2 linked regions of the Homo sapiens genome follow. The protein of the gene in region 1 interacts with the protein of each later gene in a biochemical or structural test. Each region holds a gene or a part of one and is shown in the gene's direction. Other genes may lie near its edges.

Region 1 (7,102 bases):
AGGCCAAGGCAGGAGAATGGCATGAACCTGGGAGGCAGAGCTTGCAGTGAGCTGAGATCACGACAGCCTGGGTGACAGAGCAAGACTCCATCTCAAAAAAAAAAAAAAAAAAAAAATATCAGGCATGGTGGTGCCCCGCTGTGGTCCCAGCTACTCAAGAGGCTGAGGTGGGAGGATAACCAGAGCCCTGGGAGGTAAAGTCTGCAGTGAGCTGTGATTATACCACTGCACTCCTGCCTGGGTGACAGAGTGAAGCCGTGTCTCAAAAAAAATGCTTTGGAGGTCCAGGAAAGGGGACCTTGGAACTGTGGTGCTGTATCCTGCAAGACTCTCCTGAAAACTTTAGAGAAGTGTTTGTCTCCCATAATTGATTTCTGTGCAACAGCCATGGGTTGAGACCAATTTAAGAAAATCTTAAGTGTGGCCGGGCGCGGTGGCTCACGCCTGTAATCCCAGCATTTTGGGAGGCCGAGGCGGTGGATCACGAGGTCAGGAGATCGAGAGCATCCTGGCTAATACGGTAAAACCCCGTCTCTACTAAAAATACAAAAAATTAGCCAGGCGTGGTGGTGGGCACCTGTAGTCCCAGCTACTCAGGAGGCTGAGGCAGGAGAATGGCGTGAACCCAGGAGGCGGAGCTTGCAGTGAGCCGAGATCAGGCCACTGCACTCCAGCCTGGGTGACAGAGAGAGACTCTATCTCAAAAAAAAAAAAAAAAAAAAGGAAAAAAGATCTTAAGTGCATATTATTTATAGGGGAATTTTGAAATGGTTCCTATGAAACCATTATTATTTTTCATATTAACAGGTAGTTTCTGCACTTTTTAAGCCCCCAACAGCCTTTTGGTAGAAGCCATTACCCCCAGCATGTAGCCAGTCATGTAGGCTGATCTGGGCTCCATTTCAACATGAATAATAAAAAACGCTGCTGCCCATTAAAAAAAAAAAAAAACTGAGCAGCCACATTTGGAGACAGCATGTTCTAGGATTCAACCCCAGAGGGAATTTTGATGCTGATATTAAATACCCCCTAAAAAATCAGGTTTATAATGAACACATAAGAGGCTCCATAATTAAACACTGGTTTAAATTGCACATGTACAACACGCACCAACCTCCCATCTAGACATCAACTTACCCAGCTGACTCTTACATAAGAAAATAGTATTGATACCAAGATTAGAAATTTGTGGGTTTTTTGTTTTTATTAGGTTTCATAATTATTTTAAGCTCTAGTAACTAAAAAGGGGGAGGAGGAAGAAGATGATGCAGATTTTTTTTTTTTTTGAGACAGAGTCTCTCTCTGTCTCCCAGGCTAGAGTGCAGTGGTGCAATCTCGGTTCATTGCAACCTCCGCCTCCCAGGTTCAAGCAATTCTCCTGCCTCAGCCTCCCGAGTAGCTAGGACTACAGGCATGCACCACCACACCCGGTTAATATTTTTGTATCTTTAGTAGAGACAGGGTTTCACCATGTTGGTCAGGCTGGTCTTGAACTCCTGACCTCAAATGATCCTCCTGCCTTGGCCTCCCAACGTGCTGAGATTACAGGTGTGAGCCACCGTCCCTGGCCAGATGATGCAGATTTCTCAACATCTGCAAGCTTGCAACATAAATGGCCAAAAGCAAGGAAATTCCAAGTGCATGCTTACATTCCATTTTTCCTTGATACTTTTGGCCTGGTGATTTATTATAGGGTTTCAGATGAGTGTGTTCTATTAGCTGCCATATGTACACAAAACACCAGGGGACAAACTGAGGACCAAGGGGACAGCTGACCGTTGAATATCTCCAATTTGGGGATTAAGTTTGAAATGGTTGGTTTGTGAATGGTAGGAGGAATCTTTAGCCTATGCACTGAGCCTGTCAGCTTGGATGATGACCATGCCCAAGAGTGGAGCCTTACTCCCTGGAGTCCATAGAAACCCTGAAAGCTGTTAGGCTTTGTGTTTCCTGTAGGCTGCAACTGTTCCCTTCAGGGAGCTGTAAGTGTCTCAGGTTTTGAAAGTTGTCATGATGAGGTTATCTAAACCTCATGGAATCTTCCACCCTCTCCAAGGTTGACCTTATAATACGAATCACTTCTCACCTCCAACATAGAACCATGTTATTAGCCAGGTGTATTTTTTCTCATTAACTCTATTTGGGGTTTTTGGTTTGGATTTTATTGTTTTCATCGCTTTTAGTTTTTGGTGTTTTCAATATGAAGCGGTGAACTCAATGGAGATACAAAGGGTGAGAAATTCCCTCTAGTTGAATCCACTATATTCAAGTAATGGGATTGCAAGTTGCATGGTGGGAAGCTAACATTTAACATACTAAGCAGATCATAAAATGTCTTACTAGAAAAAAAGTCCTTTACTTTTTTCTGCCTAGCTTTCAAAGACTTCCTAAACCTGTTTTACAACCCGAAGCATGGGACTCTGATATAACTGCAGTTCTACATCATAGAAACTTCAATGAGACTGAGTATCCCTCATTGCCCTGCGTCAAACTATAGCCCCATAAGAAACTAACAATTAGATGCAATTTGCCTTTTTCCCTTGCCATACTCATTTGTCTTTATTTTTGTGTCATGTATAAGCTCAAGAGACCAATGTGATGATTATTAATGTAGAAGAAGTAATGATATTTGTACTGGAAAAGGCAGCTACTAGTACAAAAAATAAAAAGAAATAATGATGATAAGCAAAGTCTCTTAGGTATAACATGTCCCTAAAATTCAGGGTTTTTTTTTTAAAGGGATTTAAGGAAAAATACCTGTGAAATAGGTGTGATTTCTTAAAACTTTTGTTCCCACGTATTCCTAAACCAGCATCCTCAATCTTACCCAAAGATGCTAATTGGCAGACCCACCCTTCCTTCCTTCCTGCCTGCCTGCCTTCCTTCCTTCCTTTCTTCCTTCCTTCCTTCCCTCCCTCCTTCCTTCTTTTTCTTTTTTTTTTTTTTTTTTGTGAAAGTTACACTCTTGTTGCCCAAGCTATAGTGCAATGGCATGATCTCGGCTCACCGCATCCTCCACCTCTGGGGTTCAAGCGATTCTCCTGCCTCAGCCTCCTGAGTAGCTGGGATTACAGGCACCCACCACCACACCTGGCTAATTTTTGTTTTTTTACTAGAGATGAGGTTTTGCCATGTTGACCAGGCTGGTCTTGAACTCCTGACCTCAGGTGATCTGCCTGCCTCGGCCTCCCTAAGTGCTGAGATTACAGGCACATCTTTTCTTAACAGAGAAGAACAAAGTTCAAGGGATGAGATGGAAAAAGGAGGGGAAGAATACCAGCTCAGTACAACTGTTTTGTGACTGCTCTGCTAAGACATGTCAGGGCAGAATGACAGCAGTTTTGAAAGGGCTTGTCAGTCAGCTGGGTCATAGATGGAAAGTTAAAATGACCTCCTAAGGTCAAAGTTTATATGGCTGCATAATGCAGTAAATGAGTCGAATTGGTACCCACAACTTCTGTCAGTAGGGTCACATAAGGAGTGTGTCTGTCTCATTGACTATAATTTATTTCATTCAACAGCAAAGCTATATTTGCGGTGGCACTGACTGTCTGAATTTTGACAACTTCATTTTGGGCTTTAATAGAAATGTAGTTTGCTGCAACCTAGAAGGACTTAGTCTCCTCTGTCCCTCTGGTAGACAGGCTGCCAAGAAATCTTCATACTTTGTCAATATTTTAGCATTATCTGCATATCATCTGGCCCTGAGTAGAAATTATTAACACTTATGCATTGCTAATCTTCAGTGCATCATATTGAATACATTGGGAAGGGATTTGCCCTGTTAAGGAAAGCAGGGAGTTGCAATAGGTTTGTTGTTTGTCGTTAACATGGGGTTGGTTGGATTTTTGAAAGAGAAATGCTTTAAAAAAATCTTTCTCAGGAGTATCATAAAACACAACATGTAATTTAAAACCCATTTGGATAATTGACTGATTTGACAAGAAGACAACCTTAGAATTAAACTATATATTAGAATCAAGGAGTGATATGATTGTATACCATCAGTACATAATACTTTGCTATTTTGATAGGTATCTCATAAGGGACTGAAGCGAATATGCATATTTCCCCTAATGTTTCTGTAATTTAGATTTCTTTGTTTAGAGCCATGATTGGGGAGTAATAAAGCTTTACAGAAACTTCACGAGCTGATTGACAAGCCTGTTTTCAAGTAAAACTGCTGTGTGGAATATTTTATTTCATAGCAAAACATGTCTGTGTATTTGGTTTTCTTCTGACTGTCTTTTGAAATATGTTACCAGGTTTCATCAGAGCAAGAAAAAGAACAAGAGACTTTAATAAGCCAGAAAAGCATCCCTGAGCCTCTCCCAGCAGCAGACATGAAGAAAAAAATAGAAGGGTATCAGGAATTTTCAGCGAAGCCCCTGGCATCCAGAGTAGACCCAGAGAAGGACAACGAAACAGACCAAGGTTCCAACAGTGAGAAGGTGGCAGAGGAGGCGGGAGAGAAGGGGCCCACACCTCCACTCCCAAGTGCTCCTCTGGCCCCAGAAAAAGATTCAGCCTTGGTCCCTGGGGCCAGCAAACAGCCACTCACCTCTCCTAGTGCCCTGGTGGACTCAAAACAAGAATCCAAACTGTGCTGTTTTACAGAGAGCCCTGAAAGTGAACCCCAAGAAGCATCCTTCCCCAGCTTCCCCACCACACAGCCACCGCTGGCAAACCAGAATGAGACGGAGGATGACAAACTGCCCGCCATGGCAGATTACATTGCCAACTGCACCGTGAAGGTGGACCAGCTGGGCAGTGACGACATCCACAATGCGCTCAAGCAGACCCCAAAGGTCCTTGTGGTCCAGTCGTTTGACATGTTCAAAGACAAAGACCTGACTGGGCCCATGAACGAGAACCATGGACTTAATTACACGCCCCTGCTCTACTCTAGGGGCAACCCAGGCATCATGTCCCCACTGGCCAAGAAAAAGCTTTTGTCCCAAGTGAGTGGGGCCAGCCTCTCCAGCAGCTACCCTTATGGCTCCCCACCCCCTTTGATCAGCAAAAAGAAACTGATTGCTAGGGATGACTTGTGTTCCAGTTTGTCCCAGACCCACCATGGCCAAAGCACTGACCATATGGCGGTCAGCCGGCCATCAGTGATTCAGCACGTCCAGAGTTTCAGAAGCAAGCCCTCGGAAGAGAGAAAGACCATCAATGACATCTTTAAGCATGAGAAACTGAGTCGATCAGATCCCCACCGCTGCAGCTTCTCCAAGCATCACCTTAACCCCCTTGCTGACTCCTACGTCCTGAAGCAAGAAATTCAGGAGGGCAAGGATAAACTCTTAGAGAAAAGGGCCCTCCCCCATTCCCACATGCCTAGCTTCCTGGCTGACTTCTACTCGTCCCCTCATCTCCATAGCCTCTACAGACACACCGAGCACCATCTTCATAATGAACAGACATCCAAATACCCTTCCAGGGACATGTACAGGGAATCGGAAAACAGTTCTTTTCCTTCCCACAGACACCAAGAAAAGCTCCATGTAAATTATCTCACGTCCCTGCACCTGCAAGACAAAAAGTCGGCGGCAGCAGAAGCCCCTACGGATGATCAGCCTACAGATCTGAGCCTTCCCAAGAACCCGCACAAACCTACCGGCAAGGTCCTGGGCCTGGCTCATTCCACCACAGGGCCCCAGGAGAGCAAAGGCATCTCCCAGTTCCAGGTCTTAGGCAGCCAGAGTCGAGACTGTCACCCCAAAGCCTGTCGGGTATCACCCATGACCATGTCAGGCCCTAAAAAATACCCTGAATCGCTTTCAAGATCAGGAAAACCTCACCATGTGAGACTGGAGAATTTCAGGAAGATGGAAGGCATGGTCCACCCAATCCTGCACCGGAAAATGAGCCCGCAGAACATTGGGGCGGCGCGGCCGATCAAGCGCAGCCTGGAGGATTTGGACCTTGTGATTGCAGGGAAAAAGGCCCGGGCAGTGTCTCCCTTAGACCCATCCAAGGAGGTCTCTGGGAAGGAGAAGGCCTCTGAGCAGGAGAGTGAAGGCAGCAAAGCAGCGCACGGTGGGCATTCCGGGGGCGGATCAGAAGGCCACAAGCTTCCCCTCTCCTCCCCTATCTTCCCAGGTCTGTATTCCGGGAGCCTGTGTAACTCGGGCCTCAACTCCAGGCTCCCGGCTGGGTATTCTCATTCTCTGCAGTACTTGAAAAACCAGACTGTGCTTTCTCCACTCATGCAGCCCCTGGCTTTCCACTCGCTTGTGATGCAAAGAGGAATTTTTACATCACCGACAAATTCTCAGCAGCTGTACAGACACTTGGCTGCGGCTACACCTGTAGGAAGTTCATATGGGGACCTTTTGCATAACAGCATTTACCCTTTAGCTGCTATAAATCCTCAAGCTGCCTTTCCATCTTCCCAGCTGTCATCCGTGCACCCCAGTACAAAACTGTAGGCTCAGCTCTGCCCAGCAGTCCAAAGCGGCATGGCCAACAGAGCTTCACTCCTTACCCAGGAGTGCTGGCTTATAGAGTTAGAAGTCAGTATTTCTTCTAATCTGAGGCTATGATCAGTCCCAGCTGTAGGGGCCCAGAGGGGAGGTGAACATGCCTGATTTTTGTGGGACAACTCTAGCCCACAAACTGACTGGCTGGTGAGTCTTGACTCCCTTCCAACACAGATGCCCAGGCACCTCCAGATCATTCACTTCGCACGTGGGCCTTGTGAAGGGATTTGTGAATATCCAGGAAGAACTTAGAGGACCCCATCTGAGTTCGGATGGTCAGGAAACAATCTGGGCAAAAAAGAGGCAGGCATTTCAAAGGAAGGGGCAAGGAAGACTGGCAAACAGATGGCAAGGGATGCCCCTCTTTTTCATAAAACTCTCCAAGGTTCAATCAATGCAATGTATAGTGAAACTTCAATAGATCTTTCATTTTGACACTATTAAACAATCCAGAGAAGTAAACACTGTTAAATTGACTGTATATATTTGCTTCTTAAAACTACCTGTATCACTGTTTGCTCACCTAATTTATATACAGGTAGTTCCATTTTCTCCCAGTTCCTTCTCGTCTTTTTTTTTTTTTTTTTTTTTTTTTTTATTAAATGGTATTGCTTTTG
Region 2 (7,000 bases), on another chromosome or scaffold:
AGGCATTCAAAGGTACTGGTCACTCCGGGGTGGGCGTCCAAGCCTGGGGCTCTTGGCTGTGGGGGCAGCCAGACCTGGTCAGGGCTGACTGTCTGGGTGTGAGTGCCGCCTTCCTGTGGCCTGAGCAAGTCCTCTTGGGACTCAGACCCCTGGGGCTCAGTTTCCCCATCTGTATAATGCAGGACTAGATTGAACAGGCTGGGCCTCTCCTTCCGATTGGACTGTCCCTTGTTTTAGAACGAACACTGGGCTGTGGGTTGAGAGGGGTGAGTGTGCATGGCCTCAGTGCAGGTATCAATCACACCTGCTCCACCCTCCACACTTGCCTCCATTGGGAGGGTGGAGCCCTGGCTCTGTCACCAGCTGAGGAGTGGGTGCGAGTGGGCTCTGGGTCCCCTTAGGCTCCCTCAGGGGCCTGGCAACTGGACCGTGAGGCAGGCTTGTGGCTCGGTGGCCCTCTGTGGATGCACTTTGGCATCCCCGGGCCGCCCTTTTCTGTCCCAGGTCCTGCCTGGCCACACCCTCAGAGATGAGAGCAGGTGGCTCCTGCCAGCCACCACCCTGTCCAGGCCTCCAGACTGCCCAGCAGCGTGAGGGAGCCTGCAGGAGAGTTTGCATTTATGCGTGATTTCCTTTCTCGGTGTGGTTGCTCTTAGTTGCTCTTTTTTGGTTCTAATAGCAGCCAAGAGCTCTTTTATGCAGACCCTTTGTACTCTGGCCCTAGTTTGAGAAGGTAAAATGGTCCTTAGTCACGGCTGGCCAGGTTGCGGTAAGATTTTCCCACTGTTCCCCAAATCTGGAGCCCTGAGCTTGACTCTGGCAGAAGGAAGTGCCCAAGATGGGAGTCTAACCCTGCCCTCAGGGGACTGGTGCCAGGGAGGCAGGGATCAGGGCAGCACCTGGGAAGCCACCCCACAGGGCCAGCCTGACTACTGGCCAGCCAGGCCACTGTGGCCATATCCTCTCTGCCTGACCCTCCCTCTCTGAGTGGACGACAGTTCAGTTGGCCCCCAGGACTGAGAGGACCCAGGGAGCTGCCATGGTCCTGGTGCGTCAGAGCCCTGGAGCCCTGGAGCCCTCTTCAATGGGAAGAGGGAGGGGAGGCCCACAGCAGGAGCACACCTCCCAGCTGAAATGTAGTTGGTCCCTACACTGTGCTAAGGGGCGCCATGAGGTGGGAAGAGATGCTTGGGGATGCCTGGTGTGGGCCCATGGACAGCCTGTGGCCTGGGTCCTGGCATGACTGTGTCCCCTTGCTCAGGTAGGGCTGGGGTATTGGGCAGAGTGAGGAGAGCAAGGCAGCCTGTGTTAGGGGCCTGGAGGGTGAGACAGTGGGAGGATGGTGGGAGGGCCAATCTTTCCTCAAGCAGGGCAGGCCACCAGGAGGATGGGCGCCCCCAGGTTCCAAGAGGAACTGTTGGCAGTTGAGCTGGTGGCCATGGGCGGAGGGAGACCTCTGGAAGGCTGGACCTGGCATCCCCCGGTCTGGCTATGTGGCTGGGCATGAAGGCACCTGTGGGCAGCAGGCACCCACCCACCTCACCCAGTGTCTCCTTCCCAGGCTCTCACAAATCTGGGAAGCAGCTGCCCCCTCATCTAGTCCAAGGAGCTAAAATTCTCAATGGTGCTTTCCGATCGTGGACGAAGAAGCAGGTAGGAATCATGTCACAAATGCCCTAGGGCAGGAGAGCAGTGACAGGCGGGAGGACCTCCCTGGAGACCCAGCAGCAATGTCCAGGACTTGTCCTGCTTCAGTGAGATCCAGCCTGGGAAGGACGGTGGTGCTCCCCTGCCTGGCTTGGCCCGGGGTGTGCCTTTGCCCCAGACACCCCATGGGTCCGTCCCCTGCTGTCCACTGATTGGGCCACCTGAGGGCTGGGGGAGGACAGATGTAGATGCAGAGCCCCCTCCATCAGGGGCTCACAGCTTAGTCACAAGTTGGTGGGAGGAGGGTGACCAGGTGCTGGTGTGTCCTGGGAGGAAGGTGGGTCTGTGGGTGGGGGACAGATGGCCTATGGTGGGATGACACTGTGTGAGCACAGAAAGGCCTGGAACCTGGTGGGGGCAGGGAAGGACTGGGGGAGTGGCTGGCCCCAGGACAGGGAGTGCTGGGGACACCCTGTCGGCTCCTCCTGGCTGGCCCTGGCATCAGCTCAGAAGCTAAGCTGCCTGATTGCAGGTGCAGCACCCCAGCCACCTTGCTCTGTGACCCGGGCAGCCCCTCCCTGTGACTCTTACCGATGACCATCCTGTGCGCGCCCCCACAGAAGCCACTTACTGTGTTGCTTAGCATCTTCCCTTGGTTTTGGCTACAGAAGGGAGGGGAAGGTCTGGCCCAGCCTCGAGCACCCTCTGGGACAGTGTTTCCTACTGGGCTCATTGTGCAGAGGTACTATGCCCACTCTTGAGGGAGGAGGACCCTCTCCCAGGCCAGAGAAGGCCAGTGGAGATTTACAGGAAGCCTTCAGGGAATACAGGCTGCAGGGAATACCATGTGTAGCCTGCCTTTCTCATGGGTGGGCCAGGCAGGAGAGGCAGCCAGTGCACTCCCAGGGCCATCCTGCAGCCACCACCTCCGTCAGGCCTCAAGGCCCAGGGCAGTCCAGGGCGCCCCTGCCACCTCACCTTAGCCATGTGGCTGGGTGGAGTGGCCTCTGACCAGGAAGAAGGGATGGGACCCTTGTCCATTCCATAGCCTGCTGGTGGTGGCCTCAGGCAAGCTTGTCCTCTCTGGTACTTGGTTTGTCCACCTATTGATGGGGGCTCACAGCAGAGACCTCTTGCCAGGGCAGAGTTTGGCTCGGAAGCCCCTCGCCTCATGCTCATCTGAGTGGCTCGGCAGTCAGGCGACAGCCTGCAAGAATGCAGGGGTAAGTCAGGACCACGGGAGGTGTCTGGTGCTGACCCTGGGTCCGGTTGTCCTGCAGGCTTTGGCAGAGCATGAGGACGAGCTCCCGGAGCACTTCAAACCTTCACAGCTAATCAAAGACCTGGCCAAAGAGATCCGGCTCAGTGAGGTGGGGCCGTGTCCAGGTGCTGGGCTGGACCCCTGGGGATTGGGGAGGGCCCACCTGTCTTTCTCTGGGTCCAGGGGCCAGCCTAACACAGAGCTGCCAGGTCTGGGAAGGCCAGTGCCCCAGATGGTCCTCCTTGCACTTTCCTGGGCAAGCTTGCCTTTGTGAGGGCTCAGGGTCCTAGGTCTCTGGCTGGGTCTGTGTCCTGGTGTGAGTGTGTAGGGACTGAGAAATGGCACCAGCCTCTCTGAAACTCCCATGGGGAGGGCACTCTGTGGGAGGAGCCCCTGACTCAGCCCCTGCAGTCCCAGCTTGTGTGTTCCTGGATGAGCCCTCAGCCGCTGTGCTGGGGTAGGACAGAAGAGCCTTGGGGAGAGCAAGTGACTCATGGCATGTCGCAGGTGTGAGTGTGTCACACAATAGCATGGGTTGGGTGTGAGTGTGTCACATGATGGTGTGGGGTAGCTGAGCCTTTCTGGGCTGATAGTTCCCCGCCAGCCTGGCACTGAGTGTCTCCAGCATCCTGGTGTGTGGACCGTCTTGGGCCACAGTTTGGCAGAAGCAGCATGTGACCCTCTCCTTTCTGTATCCCAGAATGCCTCCAAAGCCGTCCGACCGGAAGTGAATACTGTCGCCTCGTCAGATGAGGTGTGTGACGGGGACCGGGAGAAGGAGGAGCCCCCGTCTCCCATTGAGGCCACCCCGCCTCAATCCCTCCTGGAGAAAGTGTCCAAAAAAAAGACTCCCAAAACTGTGAAGATGCCCAAGCCATCCAAAATCCCCAAGCCCCCGAAGCCCCCTAAGCCCCCAAGGCCCCCCAAAACGCTGAAGCTCAAAGATGGAGGCAAGAAGAAAGGGAAGAAGTCCCGGGAGTCAGCCTCACCCACCATCCCCAACCTGGACCTGCTCGAAGCCCACACCAAGGAGGCACTGACCAAGATGGAGCCGCCCAAGAAGGGCAAGGTGGGACCCCCTCACCCTGACTCCCCACCTTATCACCAGAGGTGCTGCAGCATCTCTTGTGGGCCAGTCCCATGGAGATAGCTAGGGCCCATTGTCCTTGTTCCCCAGGGGCCCCTGAGAAGATGTGGGGGTCTGGGCTCTTGCTGTGGGCTTGTATGCCCAGAAGATGCACTTCCTTGCCTGGTCCTGACCCAGTCCTGCAGCATCCAGGCCCAGACCCCCCAGAGTGGACAGGCTTTGCCCAACAAGCCACAGAGCAGTGGGCCTGAAGAGGGTCCCTCACTGAGGAAGGCAACACAATGTGTGTGTGCTGTGGCAGAGGTGGCACCCAAGAGGGCCACCTGGTGGAGGAGGCATGGTGGTTTTCCAGAAGGGGATGTCTAGTTTAGGTTTCCTAGCCAGATGAGCAGTTGCCAGGGGACAAAGAAGCCCTGGGTCCTCCCTGGGGCCAAGACATTGAGGTTGAAACCTGAAGGTAGATGAGGTGTCTGTGCAGAAACAACAGGGAGAATGCCATTGGAGGGGAGGGGGTTCAGGGGTGAGGACAAGAGCAGGGTGGCCCTGATAGTCTGAGCCCCTGTGGACAGTGAAGAGATGGGCCCAGCCCTGAAGACCCACTCTGACTAGAGGATCTTAGGTCTGGGCTTCAGGGACCATGAACCCCTGAAGCACCATTGAGTGTGAGTTTCTGCCAGGAGGAGGTCGTTATCTGCTTCCTGGGGGCCAGGAAACTTCAGGGCCGGCATCACAGGGGTGTAGTGGGACGCTTTTGTGTTCTCTTTCTCAGGGCAAGCATGAATGAATGCATGAGCAAATGAATGGATGGCTAAATGGCTGGATGAATGGGTGAATGAATGAATAGGTGGATGAATGGATGGATGAATGGATGAACAGACGGATGGATGAATGAATGAATCAGTGAATGGCTGGATAGATGGATGGTTGAATGGATTAACGAATGGATGAATAGATGAATGAATAGATGGCTACATGAACGAATTGATGGATGGGTGGATGGATGGATGAATAAATGGATGGATGGGTGAATGGGTGGATGGATGGATGGAAGGACGAATAAATGAATGGGTGGGTAGATGAATGGAATAATGAATGAATGGGTAGATGAATGGATGAATGGATGGATGGATGGAATAATGAAGGGATGGATGGATGAGTGGGTAGATGGATGGATGAGTGCATAAGATGGATGGGTAGATGGATAGATGAATGGATGCATGGGTGGATAGATGAAAGAATGGTTGGATGGTTGGGTGGATGGATGGATTGATGAATAAATGGATGGATGGATGAGCAAATGGATGGATGGATGGAATGGATGGGTAGATGGATAGATGAATGAAAAAATGGATGGATGGATGAATAAATGGATAGATGAATGGATGGAAAGGTGGATGAACAAACAAATGGATGGGTGGATAAATGAATGGATGGATGGGTAGATGATGAATGAATCAACAAATGGTGAGTGGATGGATGAGTGGATGGATGGTTGGGTGGATGAATGGATGGATGAACAAATGGGTGGGTGGATGAATAAATGGATGAATGAATGGATGGATGGATGGATGGATAGACAGAGGAATGAATAGATGGATGGATGAATGAATGGGTGAGCAGATACATGGATGGATAGATGAACAAATGGATGGGTGGATAGGTGGGTGAATGGACTGATCGATGGATAAATGAATGGATGGGTAGATGGATGAATGGGTGGATGATTGAGTGAGTGGATGGGTGGATGAATTAATGAATGAACAAATGGATGGATGGATGAATGGATGAGTGGATGGGGAGATGGATAAATGGATGAGTGGATGGATGGATGGAAGGATAGATGAAAAAATGGATGGATGGATAAATGGATGGGTAGATGGATAAATAAATGGATGAGTGGATGGATGAATGGGTGGGTGGATGAATGGGATGAACGAATGGATGGATGGGTGGGCGGATGGATGGATGGATGGATGGATGGATGGATGGATGGATGAACAAATGCATGGTGCATGGATGGATGAATGAACGAATGGGTGAGTGGATGGATGGATTGGTGGATGAATGAACGGGATGAATGAATGGATGAATGGGTTGGCAGATGAATGAACGGATGGATGGATGAACGAATGAATGAATAAATGGATGGATGGATGGGTGGGTGAATGGGTACATCGATGGGTGGGTGAATGGATGCGTGGATGGGTAGATGGATGGAGGCTTGAGCTGCAAGCACATGGGCCAGAAGAAGACAGGGAATCTGTGGCTCAAGAGAGTTCCACCAGCCCTCTATGTCTGCCTCTGGGTCACAGCAGCCCTTTTTTCTAGGCCACAAAGAGTGTCCTGAGTGTGCCCAACAAAGATGTGGTTCACATGCAGAATGATGTGGAGAGGCTGGAAATTCGAGAGCAAACCAAGAGCAAGTCAGAGGCCAAGTGGAAGTACAAGGTGAGAAGTGCACATATGCATGCACACGTGTGTGTGTCAGCTTGGTGAGTGTGAGCAGAGGTGAATCTGTGAGGCCCTGTGTGTGTGAAGGAATGTGCAGACATGTGTCTGCTTGTCCTGAGTAGGTAGTGCTGTGGGGTGTGCTTACGTGGGTCTGAGGTGTGTGTGACCACCCATGGACTACATCTTCCTCTGAGTTGGTTGGGATGCAAGAGGTTGAATGTACACCCTGTATGTTGACAGTGTTTCCCTTCACGGTCCACACACTGGTTTTCATTCCCACTCCATGGGGGTCAGGCAACATCGAGGCACTGAGTCCATGGGGTGCAGGCCCCTGAGCACCCCGCAGTGGCCCGGGTGGCCACCAGAGCTATGGGTGACTTTCCTTAGTCGTGTTCCCAGTAGCTGCCTCTTCTCACTGACACTAATTGGGGTCCTGACCCCCCACTTCTGTGTGGGGCTCAGGGACGGCCCTGGTCTTGCTTTTCAGAACAGCAAACCTGACTCCTTACTGAAGATGGAAGAGGAGCAGAAGCTAGAGAAGTCGCCTCTAGCTG

Evidence for each region. The genes of interacting proteins can lie anywhere in the genome.
Region 2: the proteins of ARID5B (region 1) and PHF2 form a complex in vitro, tested with the Homo sapiens proteins (one study listed by IntAct).

The regions. Positions count from the first base shown.
Region 1 is NC_000010.11:62,086,597-62,093,698, forward strand, and holds part of ARID5B (AT-rich interactive domain-containing protein 5B), read left to right. Parts: intron 1-4,265; coding exon 4,266-6,434; 3' UTR 6,435-7,102. UniProt on the Homo sapiens protein: Transcription coactivator that binds to the 5'-AATA[CT]-3' core sequence and plays a key role in adipogenesis and liver development.
Region 2 is NC_000009.12:93,656,584-93,663,583, forward strand, and holds part of PHF2 (lysine-specific demethylase PHF2), read left to right. Parts: coding exon 1-12; intron 13-1,561; coding exon 1,562-1,653; intron 1,654-2,927; coding exon 2,928-3,017; intron 3,018-3,608; coding exon 3,609-3,977; intron 3,978-6,323; coding exon 6,324-6,443; intron 6,444-6,933; coding exon 6,934-7,000. UniProt on the Homo sapiens protein: Lysine demethylase that demethylates both histones and non-histone proteins. Enzymatically inactive by itself, and becomes active following phosphorylation by PKA: forms a complex with ARID5B and mediates demethylation of methylated ARID5B.